3 linked regions of the Homo sapiens genome follow. The protein of the gene in region 1 interacts with the protein of each later gene in a biochemical or structural test. Each region holds a gene or a part of one and is shown in the gene's direction. Other genes may lie near its edges.

What was found.
Region 2: the proteins of CTNNB1 (region 1) and MUC1 form a complex in vitro, tested with the Homo sapiens proteins (5 studies listed by BioGRID).
Region 3: the proteins of CTNNB1 (region 1) and CHD8 form a complex in vitro, tested with the Homo sapiens proteins (3 studies listed by BioGRID).

What each region holds. Positions count from the first base shown.
Region 1 is NC_000003.12:41,237,060-41,241,756, forward strand, and holds the end of CTNNB1 (catenin beta-1), read left to right. Parts: intron 1-956; coding exon 957-1,017; intron 1,018-2,074; coding exon 2,075-2,283; 3' UTR 2,284-2,600; coding exon of another isoform or gene 2,601-2,687; 3' UTR 2,688-3,384; downstream 3,385-4,697. UniProt on the Homo sapiens protein: Key downstream component of the canonical Wnt signaling pathway.
Region 2 is NC_000001.11:155,189,288-155,197,458, reverse strand, and holds the start of MUC1 (mucin-1 isoform 10 precursor), read left to right. Parts: upstream 1-4,543; 5' UTR 4,544-4,615; coding exon 4,616-4,673; intron 4,674-5,148; coding exon 5,149-5,551; coding exon of another isoform or gene 5,552-5,911; intron 5,912-6,152; coding exon of another isoform or gene 6,153-6,478; intron 6,479-6,807; coding exon of another isoform or gene 6,808-6,970; intron 6,971-6,971; coding exon of another isoform or gene 6,972-7,079; intron 7,080-7,256; coding exon of another isoform or gene 7,257-8,171. Other genes in the region: THBS3 (thrombospondin-3), read left to right, coding at 246-418, 1,333-1,472, 1,560-1,618. UniProt on the Homo sapiens protein: The alpha subunit has cell adhesive properties. Can act both as an adhesion and an anti-adhesion protein. May provide a protective layer on epithelial cells against bacterial and enzyme attack.
Region 3 is NC_000014.9:21,452,496-21,460,551, reverse strand, and holds the start of CHD8 (chromodomain-helicase-DNA-binding protein 8), read left to right. Parts: upstream 1-4,428; 5' UTR 4,429-4,520; intron 4,521-8,056. UniProt on the Homo sapiens protein: ATP-dependent chromatin-remodeling factor, it slides nucleosomes along DNA; nucleosome sliding requires ATP. Acts as a transcription repressor by remodeling chromatin structure and recruiting histone H1 to target genes.

The sequences.
Region 1 (4,697 bases):
TTTAATAAAACTTTTCTATTTGAATTTCTGCTATGAATTTTTCTTCAGCATTTGTCCTCAGTACAGGTGGTTCCTTGAAACATTGTTTCTAATAAAACTAGAACATCCTGATATTTTATCCATTCTATAGAGATCATTGATGGTACACAGACATACAGTGGATTATGTTTGTTGAGTGAATGGAAAGAGAGATTGTTAGGTTTACAACGATGCAGCTCTTGAGACCGGAGTTTAAGATCAGCCTGGGCAACATAGTGAAACCCCATCTTTAGCTGGGCATGGAGATGGATGCCTATAGTCCTAGCTACTGGGGAGACGGGGGCAGGAGGATTGCTTGAACCCAGGAGTTAACAGACTGCACTCAGTGACAGAGCCAGACTCCAACACAAAAAAAAAAAAAAAAAAAAAGCAAATTACCAGTGAGTAGTGTGTTACTTGGGTTTTTAATAGGCATCTTATTAACATGTTCCAACTTGAGCCCTTAACTTTCTCCACCTACCCCCTTCCACAAACCTGTTTTCACTGTCTTCTCTGTCTTAGTTAATGTCAGCTTTGTCTGTCCAGCTGCTCAGGCTAAAACTTTTCTTTCATATAACACATCCTATCAGCAGCTCCTGTTTGTGGGTAGGCATTTTGCCTTTTTTTTTTTTTTTTTTTTTAAACTGCTATATCTCTAGCATGTAGAACAGTGCCTGGCAGCACATAATAGGTGCTTAATATAATATTTGTTGAAAGAACAAGTCAGTGAGTATTTTTAATGTGAGGTGCAAAGAGAAAAAAAAATGTATCTTTGAGGTGTGGAGTTTTGAAGAACTTCCATTTTCTAAGCATTTGTGTAATGTTGGAGTTACTTGTTCCTTTTGTAATCTGAAAGTATGCTTTAAAAAAAATTAGTGTACTTTTGAGAATTTTCATTTTGCTTTCTATTCTTCCTTGCTTTGTGCATGTTTATCTAGACTGCTGATCTTGGACTTGATATTGGTGCCCAGGGAGAACCCCTTGGATATCGCCAGGATGGTATGTGTCTCATATTTCTCGATTAACTCCAGATCAAGCTAAAGTTCTAAAACTTTTATCAGAAGAGCCGGTTTGCTCATCTGGGAAACCAGTGTTGGCAGAAAAGTAGTGGCTTCAATTAAAAGCAGTTCTTAAATTCCAGTCAGCAACAGTATCTTTAATGGAGCACAGGGAATTCAGAGCCACACAATGAGTAGCAGTAGGATTACACCACCAACAAATACATGCTACTGCTAGGCCTCTGCAGTGCAGGATGTTACAATTTACCTGGCTTTTTATTCTCTTTTTGGCCAGAGGACTCATAATACCTTTGTCTACAAGCTACCCAAGGAAGATAGGAAAACTCCTGTTTCTAGGCTCAGATCTCGGGTGGGTTTTTACATAGTTGCATTATCATCAGGGTTTTCTTGAAAAGCTAATTTAAATCTGGGTAATGAACATGGAGGATGGCATAGACCACTAACAATTATAACTGTCTTACATTTATAACCGCATCTGCTTCTACCTAATTATGAAACCACTAAAGCGCAGATTCTTACTGTGAGAAATAACATGTCAACCCTAAGATAAAATATGTTGAGGTTTCATGGAAATAGTGCCTTTCCTTAGTACTTTTGTGGGTGTCACTTGGCCTTTTTGTCAAGATAGATTACACCTGCCAGACCTCATTATTGTCTTAATCCTCCTTCCCATGACTTCTCACTGCCTAGGTGGTCACACAGTAGATTCCTGCTTCTTCTCCTCGGGAACCCCAAGTCTCTTGACAGGGGTAAATGCAGAGTGTTCAGGGTTAGACTAATGATGTGACTAGGCCCTGCTGGTGTGCCTGTCTGATGGAAATAGATGTTATTTGTGTAGTCTCATGGGTGGCCTGGCACTGAGTAATTACTTGGCTAAAGAAAGCTGGAGGTTGAAGAGGCTAGAAAGCGTTGTTTTCTGACAAGTTTGCTGCTGAACTTTGGATGCCCTAACCTCAGTGTTAACGTCTATGTCTGCTTCTCTCCTCTCTCTTTTGCCTTCCTTCTTGCCTATTTTGTTGACACCCTGACTCTTCTAGATCCTAGCTATCGTTCTTTTCACTCTGGTGGATATGGCCAGGATGCCTTGGGTATGGACCCCATGATGGAACATGAGATGGGTGGCCACCACCCTGGTGCTGACTATCCAGTTGATGGGCTGCCAGATCTGGGGCATGCCCAGGACCTCATGGATGGGCTGCCTCCAGGTGACAGCAATCAGCTGGCCTGGTTTGATACTGACCTGTAAATCATCCTTTAGGTAAGAAGTTTTAAAAAGCCAGTTTGGGTAAAATACTTTTACTCTGCCTACAGAACTTCAGAAAGACTTGGTTGGTAGGGTGGGAGTGGTTTAGGCTATTTGTAAATCTGCCACAAAAACAGGTATATACTTTGAAAGGAGATGTCTTGGAACATTGGAATGTTCTCAGATTTCTGGTTGTTATGTGATCATGTGTGGAAGTTATTAACTTTAATGTTTTTTGCCACAGCTTTTGCAACTTAATACTCAAATGAGTAACATTTGCTGTTTTAAACATTAATAGCAGCCTTTCTCTCTTTATACAGCTGTATTGTCTGAACTTGCATTGTGATTGGCCTGTAGAGTTGCTGAGAGGGCTCGAGGGGTGGGCTGGTATCTCAGAAAGTGCCTGACACACTAACCAAGCTGAGTTTCCTATGGGAACAATTGAAGTAAACTTTTTGTTCTGGTCCTTTTTGGTCGAGGAGTAACAATACAAATGGATTTTGGGAGTGACTCAAGAAGTGAAGAATGCACAAGAATGGATCACAAGATGGAATTTATCAAACCCTAGCCTTGCTTGTTAAATTTTTTTTTTTTTTTTTTTAAGAATATCTGTAATGGTACTGACTTTGCTTGCTTTGAAGTAGCTCTTTTTTTTTTTTTTTTTTTTTTTTTGCAGTAACTGTTTTTTAAGTCTCTCGTAGTGTTAAGTTATAGTGAATACTGCTACAGCAATTTCTAATTTTTAAGAATTGAGTAATGGTGTAGAACACTAATTCATAATCACTCTAATTAATTGTAATCTGAATAAAGTGTAACAATTGTGTAGCCTTTTTGTATAAAATAGACAAATAGAAAATGGTCCAATTAGTTTCCTTTTTAATATGCTTAAAATAAGCAGGTGGATCTATTTCATGTTTTTGATCAAAAACTATTTGGGATATGTATGGGTAGGGTAAATCAGTAAGAGGTGTTATTTGGAACCTTGTTTTGGACAGTTTACCAGTTGCCTTTTATCCCAAAGTTGTTGTAACCTGCTGTGATACGATGCTTCAAGAGAAAATGCGGTTATAAAAAATGGTTCAGAATTAAACTTTTAATTCATTCGATTGTGTCACTCTTTCTTTTTTTCTTGTCATTAATAAATGGTTTGTGAGGGTGGTAAGTAAGTTTATCCAACTCAACTTTATCCTGAACTTTATCCTGAGATAGATAGATACATAGTGAAGTAATTTGTTGTAGCGATAGAGAGGGCCCTACTTCTCTAGATGCAATTTGCCAAGTTTCTTTAGCATTTGGCCCTGGATTACGCTGGACCCCTAAAAAAGTGTTTCAGCCTTGCACATTGTGATTAGTTCTGGGCTTTGGTGGGAGAAAGCCAAGCAGACTATCCATCTATCTATCTCTACCCCAATCCCCCTCAGATGATTTGATTCCATTAAAGTAATGAAATAAATAGTAACTACCCCTACCTGGATTTGGATTTGAATCACCTTCACCCAAGTGTGACTCATTGGGAGAGGGGAATTCCTTCAACTGGACTTTGAACTAATAATAATTAAATAAATTAAATAGGTTTAAGTGTTGATGTTTATCTGAACATAATCAGAACCAGAATGAGCCTTCCACAGTACCTGCCAGATGATCCTATCATCCCGGTGGTAGGTCTGACAAGCTTAGTTCATCTCATCTCTTCAGGTAGACCTGTTTGTTAAGACTTGTGTTTTGGTCTTTTAAAAAGTAAAAGAAAGAAGTGTTTTGTCTTTAGGGAGAGCTCTTTCTGATTTACTGTTTTTATTTTGATGATGATTGATAGTGACTATTAATTATGAGAAAAACATACATTCAGTTCTTTTTCGTTAAAAATCAGCTTCATCTGGGGAGGCCTTTTTGTGAATGCCCTTGCTTTGCAAAAATGAATTCATTGTGGTCTAAAATGTAATTAGGGTTTGAAAAGAAACATTCACATAGCTGATGATGTGGTAGGTCTCAGGTTCTGTCTCATGTGTGATAAACCAAACCAGCCAGTATTTCAAGAAGCCTAGGGCTATTGGTAGGTTAACACCGTGAAGATCTTCAGTGAATTCAGCTTTTAACATAAAGAGCCACCGCACGGTGTTTCAATTACAGAAAGAACAACTTTTTAAAACCAGAGAATGTTTTCAGAGCTTTGCTAATTCATTGTATTTTATTTTTGAAGTTTAAAAACTTAATGTGAGAGTTAATCCAGTTCAACAAGGTGGCTCTGGAAGTACCAAGGGTGAATAATAGCCAAGACGCTTAGGAAAAATAGCACTTGCTCTAGCAGCTGTCAAGGCCTAACTACTTAATACAAAGCTAAAGTTAGTTAACCCTGTTACAGGAATAGGGATATAAATACAGATTAATACAGAATAATACACAGGCATTTAAAGACTCTT
Region 2 (8,171 bases), on another chromosome or scaffold:
CCAGCTGCTCAGATTCCGCAACCCAGGGCCCTTTCCCAAAGCTCTCCTCTGCAGCCCCAGGGCCTCCCCCACTGCTTGACTGGGAACCCTCTTACCCAGACATCTGGCTTGGAGGCCGGCTCTCTGGGGCCCCAGGGCATTTTCATGACCGCCTTGAATCCCTTTCCCACCTGCACTTACCGACCTGTTGTCTCCCCTCACTCCAGTTCTGCAGTTGACCCACTGTCTTTGCCAATGTCTCCTAGGCAGTGACATCAGTGTCTGGCCCAGGTGAGCACCTCCGAAATGCCCTGTGGCATACTGGCCACACCCCTGATCAGGTACGACTGCTGTGGACAGACCCACGAAATGTGGGCTGGCGGGACAAGACCTCCTATCGCTGGCAGCTTCTGCACCGGCCTCAAGTTGGCTACATTCGGTAAGGAGAGGGGCTGAGCCCACCTGTGGGACTCAGGCCGGGCCTGTCCTTCCTCTTTAGCTGGGATTCACCAGTGACCTCTCCATGGGTGGGAACTGCAGCCACTTCTCTCCATCACCCTTCTCACCACGGACACAAGCACCTATGAGTGATGTTGGTGAAGTCACTCCTCCATGACCCATTTTCCCGTCTGTAAAATGAGGGCATTGGGTTAGATGCCCTTTACAGTTCTCCAGAAGCCTCCAAACCCAGGCCAATCTGTGAAGGGGCACATCACATCTGGTCCCTTAGTTGGTATGACCTGGAACCTGTCTTATCAACGTGGATAGGGATCATCTGACCTGGAAGGCATCATCATTTACAGAAGAGAAAATCAAGGCCCTGACTTCACAGGCCTCGGTTCAACACTTTGTCCACAACTTTGCATTTCTCTCCAACAAGTAGCCCTAGTTGGTGGAGATGAACAGGAAGGGAGGGGAAATGGGTCTGCTTAGAGGCTGGACTTTCCATGGCCAAGAGCCCAGAGTCCAGGAACCTGGGTTGGTTCCCCTTTAAGGTGCCTGGGGCTGTGGGGTGCCAGGACAGGGGATAAAAGGGGGTGGACTAGAGCCTGGGAAGCGGGTGACTTCACCCCCCAGCCCATTGTGCTTATTGTCATGGCAACCCAATCCTCGCTTGGAATGCGGCTGGTGCTTTGAGATGCAAAAGGAGCTGGACAAAGAGCTAGGGGCCCCAGGCCTGAGAAAAGCACCCCCCTTCCCTCTCCTTCCTGCCTCCCTTTCCCTCCCTCCCTTCTCTCTCAGGCCTGGTGAGCTCAAGGGGGGCTGGGGAAAAGCAAGGCCCCAGGCATGGTGGCACAGTGCCCACTGGCACCCTAGCACCAATGGATACTCCTATCCTGGAATCCTGGACAGGGTGAAGCTCTATGAGGGACCCCAGCTTGTGGCGGATTCTGGGGTGATCATTGACACATCCATGCGAGGGGGGCGTCTTGGTGTATTCTGCTTCTCCCAAGAAAACATAATTTGGTCCAATCTCCAGTATCGATGCAATGGTGAGGTGGCTGATTGAGATCAACCTAATCCTTCATGCCTTGTGGGAGAGCCACATCCTCTGACCTTACTTATTTCCCCTTCTTCAGACACAGTGCCTGAGGACTTTGAGCCATTCCGGAGGCAGCTGCTCCAGGGAAGGGTGTGAGGAGGAGGCCACCAGATTCAGAATTCAGAATTTTAGACCCTTTGGCCTTGGGGTCCATCCTGGAGACCCTGAGGTCTAAGCTACAGCCCCTCAGCCAACCACAGACCCTTCTCTGGCTCCCAAAAGGAGTTCAGTCCCAGAGGGGTGGTCACCCCACCCTTCAGGGGATGAGAAGTTTTCAAGGGGTATTACTCAGGCACTAACCCCAGGAAAGATGACAGCACATTGCCATAAAGTTTTGGTTGTTTTCTAAGCCAGTGCAACTGCTTATTTTAGGGATTTTCCGGGATAGGGTGGGGAAGTGGAAGGAATCGGCGAGTAGAAGAGAAAGCCTGGGAGGGTGGAAGTTAGGGATCTAGGGGAAGTTTGGCTGATTTGGGGATGCGGGTGGGGGAGGTGCTGGATGGAGTTAAGTGAAGGATAGGGTGCCTGAGGGAGGATGCCCGAAGTCCTCCCAGACCCACTTACTCACGGTGGCAGCGGCGACACTCCAGTCTATCAAAGATCCGCCGGGATGGAGAGCCAGGAGGGCGGGGGCTGCCCCGCTAGGGGTAGCGGGGAGGCCGGGGGGCCGGGGGGGCCGGAGGCCGGGACGAGTGCAATATTGGCGGGGGAAAAAACAACACTGCACCGCGTCCCGTCCCTCCCGCCCGCCCGGGGCCCGGGATCCCGCTCCCCACCGCCTGAAGCCGGCCCGACCCGGGAACCCGGGGCGCGCTGGGGAGTTGGGTTCACCTTGGAGGCCAGAGAGACTTGGCGCCCGGAAGGCAAAGGGAATGGCAAGGGGGAGGGGGGAGGGAGAACGGGAGTTTGCGGAGTCCCAGAAGGCCGCTTTCCGACGCCCGGGCGTTGCGCGCGCTTGCTCTTTAAGTACTCAGACTGCGCGGCGCGGAGCCGTCGCCATGGTGACGCGTGTCCCAGCAACCGAACTGAATGGCTGTTGCTTGGCAATGCCGGGAGTTGAGGTTTGGGGCCGCCCACCTAGCTACTCGTGTTTTCTCCGGCCTGCGAGTTGGGGGGCTCCCCGCCTCCCCGGCCCGCGCTCCCGGGCGCGCTGACGTCAGATGTCCCCACCCCGCCCAGCGCCTGCCCCAGGGTCTCGCCGCACACAAAGCTGCGCCTCGGGCGCCGCGCGGCGCGCGGGCGAGAGCTGTGGTCTCTCGCCTGCTGATCTGATGCGCTCCAATCCCGTGCCTCGCCGAAGTGTTTTTAAAGTGTTCTTTCCAACCTGTGTCTTTGGGGCTGAGAACTGTTTTCTGAATACAGGCGGAACTGCTTCCGTCGGCCTAGAGCGCAGCCTGCGACTGCGGGACCCAAGTTCCACGTGCTGCCGCGGCCTGGGATAGCTTCCTCCCCTCGTGCACTGCTGCCGCACACACCTCTTGGCTGTCGCGCATTACGCACCTCACGTGTGCTTTTGCCCCCCGCTACGTGCCTACCTGTCCCCAATACCACTCTGCTCCCCAAAGGATAGTTCTGTGTCCGTAAATCCCATTCTGTCACCCCACCTACTCTCTGCCCCCCCCTTTTTTGTTTTGAGACGGAGTCTTGCTCTGTCGCCCAGGCTGGAGTGCAATGGCGCGATCTCGGCTCACTGCAACCTCCGCCTCCCGGGTTCAAGCGATTCTCCTGCCTCAGCCTCCTGAGTAGCTGGGGTTACAGCGCCCGCCACCACGCTCGGCTAATTTTTGTAGTTTTTAGTAGAGACGAGGTTTCACCATCTTGGCCAGGCTGGTCTTGAACCCCTGACCTTGTGATCCACTCGCCTCGGCCTTCCAAAGTGTTGGGATTACGGGCGTGAGCCACCGTGCCACGCCCGATCTGCCTCTTAAGTACATAACGGCCCACACAGAACGTGTCCAACTCCCCCGCCCACGTTCCAACGTCCTCTCCCACATACCTCGGTGCCCCTTCCACATACCTCAGGACCCCACCCGCTTAGCTCCATTTCCTCCAGACGCCACCACCACGCGTCCCGGAGTGCCCCCTCCTAAAGCTCCCAGCCGTCCACCATGCTGTGCGTTCCTCCCTCCCTGGCCACGGCAGTGACCCTTCTCTCCCGGGCCCTGCTTCCCTCTCGCGGGCTCTCGCTGCCTCACTTAGGCAGCGCTGCCCTTACTCCTCTCCGCCCGGTCCGAGCGGCCCCTCAGCTTGCGCGGCCCAGCCCCGCAAGGCTCCCGGTGACCACTAGAGGGCGGGAGGAGCTCCTGGCCAGTGGTGGAGAGTGGCAAGGAAGGACCCTAGGGTTCATCGGAGCCCAGGTTTACTCCCTTAAGTGGAAATTTCTTCCCCCACTCCCTCCTTGGCTTTCTCCAAGGAGGGAACCCAGGCTGCTGGAAAGTCCGGCTGGGGCGGGGACTGTGGGTTTCAGGGTAGAACTGCGTGTGGAACGGGACAGGGAGCGGTTAGAAGGGTGGGGCTATTCCGGGAAGTGGTGGGGGGAGGGAGCCCAAAACTAGCACCTAGTCCACTCATTATCCAGCCCTCTTATTTCTCGGCCCCGCTCTGCTTCAGTGGACCCGGGGAGGGCGGGGAAGTGGAGTGGGAGACCTAGGGGTGGGCTTCCCGACCTTGCTGTACAGGACCTCGACCTAGCTGGCTTTGTTCCCCATCCCCACGTTAGTTGTTGCCCTGAGGCTAAAACTAGAGCCCAGGGGCCCCAAGTTCCAGACTGCCCCTCCCCCCTCCCCCGGAGCCAGGGAGTGGTTGGTGAAAGGGGGAGGCCAGCTGGAGAACAAACGGGTAGTCAGGGGGTTGAGCGATTAGAGCCCTTGTACCCTACCCAGGAATGGTTGGGGAGGAGGAGGAAGAGGTAGGAGGTAGGGGAGGGGGCGGGGTTTTGTCACCTGTCACCTGCTCCGGCTGTGCCTAGGGCGGGCGGGCGGGGAGTGGGGGGACCGGTATAAAGCGGTAGGCGCCTGTGCCCGCTCCACCTCTCAAGCAGCCAGCGCCTGCCTGAATCTGTTCTGCCCCCTCCCCACCCATTTCACCACCACCATGACACCGGGCACCCAGTCTCCTTTCTTCCTGCTGCTGCTCCTCACAGTGCTTACAGGTGAGGGGCACGAGGTGGGGAGTGGGCTGCCCTGCTTAGGTGGTCTTCGTGGTCTTTCTGTGGGTTTTGCTCCCTGGCAGATGGCACCATGAAGTTAAGGTAAGAATTGCAGACAGAGGCTGCCCTGTCTGTGCCAGAAGGAGGGAGAGGCTAAGGACAGGCTGAGAAGAGTTGCCCCCAACCCTGAGAGTGGGTACCAGGGGCAAGCAAATGTCCTGTAGAGAAGTCTAGGGGGAAGAGAGTAGGGAGAGGGAAGGCTTAAGAGGGGAAGAAATGCAGGGGCCATGAGCCAAGGCCTATGGGCAGAGAGAAGGAGGCTGCTGCAGGGAAGGAGGCGGCCAACCCAGGGGTTACTGAGGCTGCCCACTCCCCAGTCCTCCTGGTATTATTTCTCTGGTGGCCAGAGCTTATATTTTCTTCTTGCTCTTATTTTTCCTTCATAAAGACCCAACCCTATGACTTTAACTTCTTACAGCTACCACAGCCCCTAAACCCGCAACAGTTGTTACGGGTTCTGGTCATGCAAGCTCTACCCCAGGTGGAGAAAAGGAGACTTCGGCTACCCAGAGAAGTTCAGTGCCCAGCTCTACTGAGAAGAATGCTGTGAGTATGACCAGCAGCGTACTCTCCAGCCACAGCCCCGGTTCAGGCTCCTCCACCACTCAGGGACAGGATGTCACTCTGGCCCCGGCCACGGAACCAGCTTCAGGTTCAGCTGCCACCTGGGGACAGGATGTCACCTCGGTCCCAGTCACCAGGCCAGCCCTGGGCTCCACCACCCCGCCAGCCCACGATGTCACCTCAGCCCCGGACAACAAGCCAGCCCCGGGCTCCACCGCCCCCCCAGCCCACGGTGTCACCTCGGCCCCGGACACCAGGCCGGCCCCGGGCTCCACCGCCCCCCAAGCCCACGGTGTCACCTCGGCCCCGGACACCAGGCCGGCCCCGGGCTCCACCGCCCCCCCAGCCCACGGTGTCACCTCGGCCCCGGACACCAGGCCCGCCCCGGGCTCCACCGCCCCCCCAGCCCACGGTGTCACCTCGGCCCCGGACACCAGGTCCGCCCCGGGCTCCACCGCGCCCGCAGCCCACGGTGTCACCTCGGCCCCGGACACCAGGTCGGTCCCGGGCTCCACCGCCCCCCAAGCCCACGGTGTCACCTCGGCCCCGGACACCAGGCCGGCCCCGGGCTCCACCGCCCCCCCAGCCCACGGTGTCACCTCGGCCCCGGACACCAGGCCGGTTCCGGGCTCCACCGCCCCCCCAGCCCACGGTGTCACCTCGGCCCCGGACACCAGGCCGGCCCCGGGCTCCACCGCCCCCCCAGTCTACGGTGTCACCTCGGCCTCGGAGAGCAGGCCGGACCCGGGCTCCACCGCGCCCGCAGTCTACGATGTCACCTCGGCCCTCGGAGAGAAGGACGGACCCGGGCTCCACCGCGCCCGCAGCCCACGGTGTCACCTCGGCCCCGGACACCAGGCCGGCCCCGGGCTCCACCGCCCCCCAAGCCCACGGTGTCACCTCGGCCCCGGACACCAGGCCGGCCCCGGGCTCCACCGCCCCCCCAGCCCACGGTGTCACCTCGGCCCCGGACACCAGGCCCGCCCCGGGCTCCACCGCCCCCCCAGCCCACGGTGTCACCTCGGCCCCGGACACCAGGCCCGCCCCGGGCTCCACCGCGCCCGCAGCCCACGGTGTCACCTCGGCCCCGGACACCAGGCCGGCCCCGGGCTCCACCGCCCCCCAAGCCCACGGTGTCACCTCGGCCCCGGACACCAGGCCGGCCCCGGGCTCCACCGCCCCCCCAGCCCACGGTGTCACCTCGGCCCCGGACCCCTGCCGGCCCCGGGCTCCACCGCCCCCCCAGCCCAGTTTTCCAACCCCGGACACCAGGCCGGCCCCGGCTCCACCGCCCCCCCAGACACCAGGCCGGCCCCGGGCTCCACCGCCCCCCAAGCCCACGGTGTCACCTCGACCCCGGACACCAGGCCGGCCCCGGGCTCCACCGCCCCCCCAGCCCACGGTGTCACCTCGGCCCCGGACACCAGGCCCGCCCCGGGCTCCACCGCCCCCCCAGCCCACGGTGTCACCTCGGCCCCGGACACCAGGCCCGCCCCGGGCTCCACCGCGCCCGCAGCCCACGGTGTCACCTCGGCCCCGGACACCAGGCCGGCCCCGGGCTCCACCGCCCCCCAAGCCCACGGTGTCACCTCGGCCCCGGACACCAGGCCGGCCCCGGGCTCCACCGCCCCCCCAGCCCACGGTGTCACCTCGGCCCCGGACACCAGGCCGGCCCCAGGGCTCCACCGCCCCCCCAGCCCACGGTGTCACCTCGGCCCCGGACACCAGGCCGGCCCCGGGCTCCCCCCCCCCCCCAGCCCACGGTGTCACCTCGGCCCCGGAGAGTTCCGCCCCGGGCTCCACCGCGCCCGCAGCCCACGGTGTCACCTCGGCCCCAGAGAGCAGGCCGGCCCCGGGCTCCACCGCGCCCGCAGCCCACGGAGTCACCACGGCCCCGGAAAGCAGTTCTGGCCCGGGCTCCACCGCGCCCCCAGCCCACGGTGTCACCTCGGCCCCGGACACCAGGCCGGCCCCGGGCTCCACCGCGCCCGCAGCCCACGGTGTCACCTCGGCCCCGGAGAGCAGGCCGGCCCCGGGCTCCACCGCGCCCGCAGCCCACGGTGTCACCTCGGCCCCGGAGAGCAGGCCGGCCCCGGGCTCCACCGCCCCCCCAGCCCACGGTGTCACCTCGGCCCCGGACACCAGGCCGGCCCCGGGCTCCACCGCCCCCCCAACCCACGGTGTCACCTCGGCCCCGGACACCAGTCCCGCCCCGGGCTCCACCGCCCCCCCAGCCCACGGTGTCACCTCGGCCCCGGACACAAGGCCCGCCCCGGGCTACACCGCGCCCGCAGCCCACGGTGTCACCTCGGCCCCGGACACCAGGCCGGCCCCGGGCTCCACCGCCCCCCAAGCCCACGGTGTCACCTCGGCCCCGGACACCAGGCCGGCCCCGGGCTCCACCGCCCCCCCAGCCCACGGTGTCACCTCGGCCCCGGACACCAGGCCGGCCCCGGGCTCCACCGCCCCCCCAGCCCACGGTGTCACCTCGGCCCCGGACACCAGGCCGGCCCCGGGCTCCACCGCCCCCCCAGCCCACGGTGTCACCTCGGCCCCGGAGAGCAGGCCGGCCCCGGGCTCCACCGCGAGAGCAGCCCACGGTGTCACCTCGGCCCCGGAGAGCAGGCCGGCCCCGGGCTCCACCGCCCCCCCAGCCCACGGTGTCACCTCGGCCCCGGACACCAGGCCGGCCCCGGGCTCCACCGCCCCCCCAGCCCACGGTGTCACCTCGGCCCCGGACACCAGGCCGGCCCCGGGCTCCACCGCCCCCCCAGCCCACGGTGTCACCTCGGCCCCGGACACCAGGCCGGCCCCGGGCTCCACCGCCCCCCCAGCCCACGGTGTCACCTCGGCCCCGGACACCAGGCCGGCCCCGGG
Region 3 (8,056 bases), on another chromosome or scaffold:
GTGCAGTGGCATGATCTTGGCTCACTGCAACCTCCACTTTCCAGGTTCAAGCAGTTCTCCTGCCTCAACCTCCCGAGTAGCTGGGACTACAGGCATGTGCCACCACACCTGGCTCATTTTTGTATTTTTAGTAGAGACAGGGTTTCACCATGTTGGCCAGGATGGTCTTGATCTCTTGACCTCGTGATCCGCCCACCTTGGCCTCCCAAAGTGCTGGATTACAGGTGTGAGCCACCGTGCCTGGCCTAAATAAATAATTTCGTAAGCATATACAATCCACTTCCCACTAAGAATTAGGGTCAAAGACATTCTATTTGAACACTTGCAATTACCTAGATCTAGTTGGCCTTTGGTTGATAGATCCTCTGCCTCGGAATTTCATTGAGTTTTTTTCTTCCTTGCCTTTGGGTGTCTGCTTGCCACTTCCTAAGAATTCTTGTAGAAGGCAGTTTCCTCTACTTGCCCAAGAGCACTGAGTACTTCTCTACTATCCTATTATTAGCTTCTATCTCTTAGTGTAACTTCAAAACTTTTAAGAGCAGTGAAGTTGGTCAGGGACATGTGGCCACTTATTATTACCTAAAGAAAACATTTGTTCCCTGTTCATTTTATTTTAGGGGCCAGATCTAACATTGTAGTGTCTTTCACCAGATAGACTTCTACTGTTTCATCAAACTCCCTTCTTAACTAGACCTAGACTTTCTACTCCAATCAGGCTAATCTACTTACTGAATGTGACATATTTATTCCTAGTTCCATACCTTTGCACATGCCCTACTCTCCACTAATTATACTTAAAAGTCCAAAAATTTTTTCTTTAGTAACAGACTTAGGTACTGCTAAGCAGTTATTAACACAATATTCCTTAGTTTTCATATGTTGGTTATTCATATGTCTATTTATATGTATATTTATTTTTATGTATGTTACTATGTAAATATGGTTTGCAGTTGTTTTTGTGTGGAATCTTGTCTTTCCGTATAAGTTGTAAGCTCCTTGAGAGCAGGATCCATGTCATTCCTTTATTTTTATAAATTATTCCCCCTATCATTCCTTTACAGTGCCTAGTGCTACTCATTATGTGTTCATTGAATTTGACTGACATAGTTAAAAACTTAAGGTTTATTTTAGACTTTCAAGGAAACAAAAGACTTTAGAGTCCTCTCTCTGTAATTCTGCCCCACTCATTTGTTTACCCTGGGTTTTATACAGTTCTCTTCCTTCTCCCCTCCCACCTTTCCCTGGCTTTTTGCCTCCATTCCATGAGGCATACAGTAAGGCTGCCTGCTAGTAAGCAGTCACATAAGTGGGTACCTATCCAGCCATTCTCTTTTCAGAGCATATAATACTATCTTAGCCAAACTTGCCTTTGCTTCACTCATCATGCAGCCTTCTGGGTTGGTTGCTATATATATCTTTTTTCCTTGATGTCCCGTTCTCTTCCACAGCCCTGAGGTCTTACGAATTTTTCTACTTTCTTTTTGCTGTTGATGAATTGTTTCATTATTAAATATATGCATGTATCAAAGCTATTCATACTCCATGTGTCATTTCTAATTGTATCCCAAACATTAGTAGATACTCTCCTCTCAGGGAATTAAATCAAAGATAATGAAGAAGCCTCTTTGGGATTCATGCTATACTCGATTCTGACCCCAGTAGTAGTAGTAATAGTTGACAGTGCACCACAGGAAGTTGGAAGACATTTGGGGTATTGCTTTGGTTATGCTTTTGTTTTGTTTTTAAAATCCTATCTGATTCCAAAAAGGATTTGAAGCTGTTGAACTTGGAGTTAGCCTGCCCCCTTACCTCTGGGCGAAAACTAAAGTAATAAAAACTAGTTTCTGTACAGAAGGTTTTTTTTTTGTTTTTTTTTTTTTTACTACCCAAAAAAACAATCTTTAGCAATTGAGAAGCATTAGAGGATTGGTCAAAGACAGCATTCTGCCTAGAGCTACTGCTTTCAGAGTCAATAAAGGATACCATTTTGATATTTTGGAGCACAGTTTTTTAATATTAATGCCCATATCTTGTTCTATTAACCAAGCCGACTTATGACCTTCTGTACTTGGGTATTGCACCAATTGTAAGGGAAGCATGAGAAAAAAAAGTATCTGGGCAAAATCATCTGTATTCTGAGTGAAGTGGTCATGAAGAATTATAAAAAGTGGATATGCCACCCCATATGAAGAATGGTAGTTATGAAATAATGTCCACTTTTTTTTTTTTTCCATCTATAGTCTTACCAATGTCCATTGGTTTTTGAAGGCCAAGACCATTGGAAATCATACTAAGATCAGTGTAGGTACCAGAAATTGGTTCAGGCACACCTGTTCCCATTTCCATAATATCTATAGCTCCTTTGATGACAGGTCTATTCTGTACCAGATGGATAATAGGCTCTCATCCTAGAAACTATTAATAATTAAGGTTATATCTGTATATGCATTTACAGACAAACACATTGTTCTGATAAATCTTAATACTAACATCAAATTGATATAATGGCAGCAGTAGCCAGGAGAGAATTTGGTTGACAGATTTTTTTTTTTTTTTTTTTTGAGACAGAGTTTCCCGCTTGTTGCCCAGGCTGGAGTGCAATGGCATGATCTAGGCTCACCACAACCTCCGCCTCCCGAGTTCAAGTGATTTTCCTGCCTCAGCCTCCTGAGTAGCTGGGGTTACAGGCATGCACCACCACACCCAGCTACTTTTGTATTTTTAGTAGAGACGGGGTTTCTCCATGTTGGTCAGGCTGGTCTTGAACTCCGGACCTTAGGTGATCCACCCGCCTCGGCCTCCCAAAGTGCTGGGATTACAGGCGTGAGCTACCGCGCCTGTCTTGGCTGACAGATTTTGATACACAGGGAAATGTATTTGGCCAAGTCTTTTTTTTTTTTTTTTTTTTTTTTTTTTTTTTTTTGAGATGGAATTTCGCTCTTGTTGCCCAGGCTGGAGTGCAGTGGTGAGATCTTGGCTCACCACAACCTCCGCCTCCTGGGTTCAAGCGATTCTCCTGCCTCAGCCTCCCGAGTAGCTGGGATTATGGGTGTCTGCCACCACGCCCGGCTAATTTTTTTTTGTATCTTTACTAGAGACGGGGTTTCACTATGTTGGCCAGGCTGCTCTCGAACTCCTGACCTCAGGCGATCCACCCGCCTCAGCCTCCCAAAGTGCTGGGATTACAGGCGTGAGCCACTGCGCCCAGCTTAAGGCCGAGTCTTATCACTCATATGACTTCTTGATGTCTCTGAGCTCCTATCATGTAAGACCATGCAATTATGTTACTCCTTGAGAAATTCCTTTAATAATCTGGAAGGATTCCCTCACTCACAACTTTAAAAAAGATTTCTTGGCCAGGAATGGTGGCTCATGTCTGTAATCCCAGCACTTTGGGAGGCCGAGGTGGGCGGATCACTTGAGGTCTGGAGTTCGAAACCAGCCTGACCAACATGGCGAAACCCCGTCTCTACTAAAAATACAAAAATTAGCTGGGCGTGGTGGCGGGAGCCTGTAGTCTCAGCTACTCAGGAAGCTGAGACAGGAGAATTGCTTGAACCCGGGAGGCAGAGGTTGCAGTGAGCCGAGATCGCCCCACTGCACTCCAGCCTGGGTGACCGAGCGAGACTCCATCTCAAAAAAAAAAAAAAAAATTAGGCCTTTAAAAAAAAAAAGGAATTCCTCCTTAAGTCCTGTTCTTGATTTCCAACTGATTCACAGTGCCCCTACTGGAAAATTTGCAGTGAATCCTAAAGCTTAGTAGCACCTATAATAGATACATGTCCTGATATTTTGAGTGAGGTGTCCATAAAGGATTACCCTAGGAAAGTGCAACTTTCACTCTCATTAGAAGAATTAATTTTTGCTTATTTGATTTGTTAAAATTGCTTTACTCCTACAGTTAAGTGAGAGGGTGGTGGTGGTTGTTGCCCGTAACCACATACGGCATTACTCCAGGGTTTCACGTCGTGACTGAGGGGCCTCCTAAGTGTATACAGCAGAGTATGTTCGGGCTGGACCTAGATAGTCGGACAGAACACCGACAGGGTCTTCACATTCTTTAAGCACTCTCACCCAGTCCCGGAGTCCGAGCCAAGATGGCTTCCCAGAAGTAGGTAACTAAGTGTTGTTTTAGTTCACAGCGCCCCCAATGGCGGGGGTCAAAAAAAGATGCCGAGGGGCCTGGCCGCCTGTGAACTGAGTCGTCAGAGGCGAGCCGCCGCCAGATTTTATTTTCAATCAGGCATATTTGTGGTCGCCTACGTACCCTTCTCATCCTCCTAGGACCTTCCACCCTCAAGAGACTTCCTGGATGGCGCTCACACTAGCTCGCTGGAAGAGGCCGGGCTTCGGTGCTGCCATTGGCGGATGGGAGCGCAGGGGGGCGGAGCCTAGGGAGAATGGACTACTAGCAAGCTAGATTGAGGCGAGGGCTGGCCATGCTCCGCCGGAAGGCGCCTTGTTCTCGGAGAGGGTGAGTTGAAACGCTGCCTGGAAAGGAAGTACCAGGACTTGCACAGGTAGGCTTCCCGCTCGCACCCGCTCCTCAGTGCTGGGCCAGGAGTCAGCAAAAGCTGAGGCTCTCAGAGATTTGATTTAAGTAACTCCTTCTCCTCTCTCTTCCACCCCCTGCTCGCCCCCCAGTTGTGAGGGATCAGGTGCGGGGTGATGCTCCGGACTGAACCAGTCTCCTTTGTGAGAGGCCGGGGGAGAGGGTGGCTGCCGGGCCGCGGGGTCCGAGCCGGGCCGAGCCGCGAGGGACTGCTTGGGACGCTGTGGAGTTTTCAGGGCTTGTCATTGCATTACTGGGCGTAGTGTAGATTGGAGGCGGCGCCTTGTTCTCCTCTCTTCAGAGAAGGGAAAACTCCTCGGCCCCGTTTGGTTACTCCATACTTTGGATTCAGAAATAGGTGGTTAGGGTTTTCTACTTCTTTTTATTTTTTTTTCTTCTGTATTTTAATAATAAAGGTGGGTAGGAAAGCATGGGGTAAGCGTAAGCAGATTGTTACTCATTCTCAGGTGTAAGTTCTGTGGGTCTCCTGGCAGTGAAGAGCAGGCTGTTGGAGAATGTTTAGAGATGGTGGGAAGAGAGGAGCTCAAGCCTTGCATCCTCCTTGACAGGTCTGCAGAGCTCACTGGTTTTCCGTTGCATTATGTAAACTCGTCACTGATAGAAGACCCTTCCCCCTGCTTTGGAACGAATGCAGTTTATTTACCTGTCTCTAGTGTCGCAGGGAATTTCCCTGCAGCAGCTGTATAAATGCAGCAGCCTCTTGCTTTTTAAGGGACAGTCTTGAAGCGGTTAGGGTCTTCACAGAAAAGGTATATAGTGGACCCATCTCTTTCGTATGGCTAAGCAAAGTGAGCCAGAAGTCAAAGATTTAGAACTCTGTCTTTTTCTATTAAAGAATAAACAGCGGAGCGCCCCAAACACAAGCCAGGGGAGCTGCCTTATCAGTGTCTGCTGCATCCTACCATCACAGCGGCGTCTACAGATCGTTTCATCTCCATGCTTTTCTGAGTTTGTCGACTCAGTCAAGGATTCTCAGCCTAGGTTAGCATATGCTGAAGTCATCTGGTGTGGGGCACATTACATATCGAAAGTGAGTTTGTGATTTGAATCGTGTCCTGTGTTAGTTAATTAGATCGTGTCTTCTGCTTAGGAATTTCTTTTGTATTGGTCATCCAATAGGTTTCAGAACAAATTCTAGTCAACCTCATAGAGCAAGATATGAGAAACTTATTTCAAGTACTTTGGAATTATCCCAACCCTTAAAAAAAGAGTTATGATAAGAAAAACATTTTCCATGTAAGAAGACCTTCTGCTGCAAGAGAGGCGTGTCAGTGGATCTGAAGGCAAGTGAAAGATATTGGCCAAAGAGAGAGTAGGCAAGTTTGAAGAGACAGGCTTAGGAGAAAGTTTAAAACTGAAATAGTGGCTCACGCTTGTAATCTCAGCACTTTGGGAGGTGGAGGCGGACGGATCACTTGAAGTCAGGAGTTCGAGACCAGCCTGACCAACATGGTGAAACCCCGTCTCTAAAAGTACAAAAAATACAAAAAAAAATTAGCCGGGCATGGTGACGCGTGCCTGTAGTCCCAGCTACATGGGAGGCCAAGGCATGAAAATCGCTTGAACCCTGGAGGTGGAGATTGCAGTGAGCCAAGATCGTGCCCCTGCATTCCGGCCTGGGCGACACAGCCAGAGGATAGCAAAGGAGTAATGGATTGGGATAAGGGATATAATGGAACAGTGTATGAGTACTTGAACAGTTTTTGTATTCTCCATGTTTGATCTGTCCTGTGCATCTGCTCTTTTGGTTTTGTCAGTTTTCTTTTCTTTTCTTTTCTTTTCTTTTCTTTTCTTTTCTTTTCTTTTCTTTTCTTTTTTTTTGAGACGGAGTCTTGCTCTGTCACCCAGGCTGGAGTGCAGTGGCAGGATCTCGGCTCACTGCAACCTCCGCCTCCCAGGTTCAAGTAATTCTCCTGCCTGAGCCTTCCGAGTAGCTGGGATTACAGGCGCCCGCCACCATGCTTGGCTAATTTTTTTTTTTATTTTTAGTAGAGACGGGGTTTCACCATATTGGCTAGGCTGGTCTTGAACTTCTGACCTCGTGATCCTCCCGCCTCGGCCTCCCGAAGTGCTGGGATTACAGGCATGAGCCACTTTTCTAAGCAAAATTACCACTTAAGATTAAGTTGTGGGTGTCAAAACTGTGTTTGCTTACTGAAGAAATAAGATTTGATATTCTCATATGTGAAAGGACTGTAACATTCAGATGAATGCTAAATGCTTTAGTGAACTGTTTGTCTACAGCTCTGGAAGAGTTAAGCTATCTTCTGAGCTTACATTGAGCCTAATACTTGGGAGGAAAACAGAAGACAAACATTTCTCTCGAGTCTCCACTTTCACCTCTAGAATCTCTCTACTTCTGGAGTTGGATTTGAGCCAGTCCTTGATCTGCAGGTCTTCGCATGACCTGTCCTTACATTACTGTGACCATTGTGGTATAATATTTACTATTTTACCTTTAGCATTTGATTCATTGACAGACTATCATGTTTCTTATCTCACTTTAACTTTTTATATCCCCTCTTACATGATCTATGATCTTTTATTCTTTTGTCTCACCAAGTTGGTGATCTTTTCATCTTCCTGTGATTTTGCTCACTTTCCTTTTCACTTAATTCACTGACGTTGTACACTTTTGCTTCTGTTTAGCTGAAACCTTTTAGGGAATGTAATTTCTGTATTTTTAGTAGAGACGGGGTTTCACCATATTGGCCAGGCTGGTCTTTAACTCCTGACCTCGTGAAAATTGAAACCTTTTAGGGTATCTAATTTTCAAGATGTGGTCTTTCTTTGGTACCTAGCACCCAAATGAGAGTTGTCTTTCTTTCTTTCTTAAGAGACGGGGTCTTGCCATCTTGCCCCAGCTGGTCTTGAACTCCTCGGCTCAAGTGATCCACCCACCTTGGCCTCCCGAAGTGCTGGGATTACAGGTGTGGGCCACCACACCCAGCCTGACAGTTGTATTTCTTTGTTTTTTGTTTTCTTTTTTTTTTTTTGAGATGGAGTCTCGCTGTGTCACCCAGGCAGGAATGCAGTGGTGCGATCTTTGCTCACTGAAAGCTCTGCCTCCCAGTTCAAGTGATTCTTCTGCCTCAGCCTTCCGAGTAGCTGGGACTACAGGCGCGCACCACCATGCCCGGCTAATTTTTGTATTTTTAGTAGAGACAGGGTTTCACCATATTGGCCAGGCTGGTCTTTAACTCCTGACCTCATGATCGGCCTGTCTCGGCCACCCAAATCGCTGGGATTACAGGCGTCAGCCACTGCGCCCGGCTGACAGTTGTATTTCTATGTAATGGGATTGTTGTATGAAGTTTTCTTTTTTTTTTTTCTTTTGAGACAAGTCTCCCTGTGTCTCCCAGGCTGGAGCGCAGTGGCGCGATCTCGGCTTACTGCAACCTCCACCTCCTGGGTTCAAGTGATTCTCCTGCTTTAGCTTCCCAAGTAGCTGGGGTTAAGGCGTGTGCCACCACGCCTGGCTAA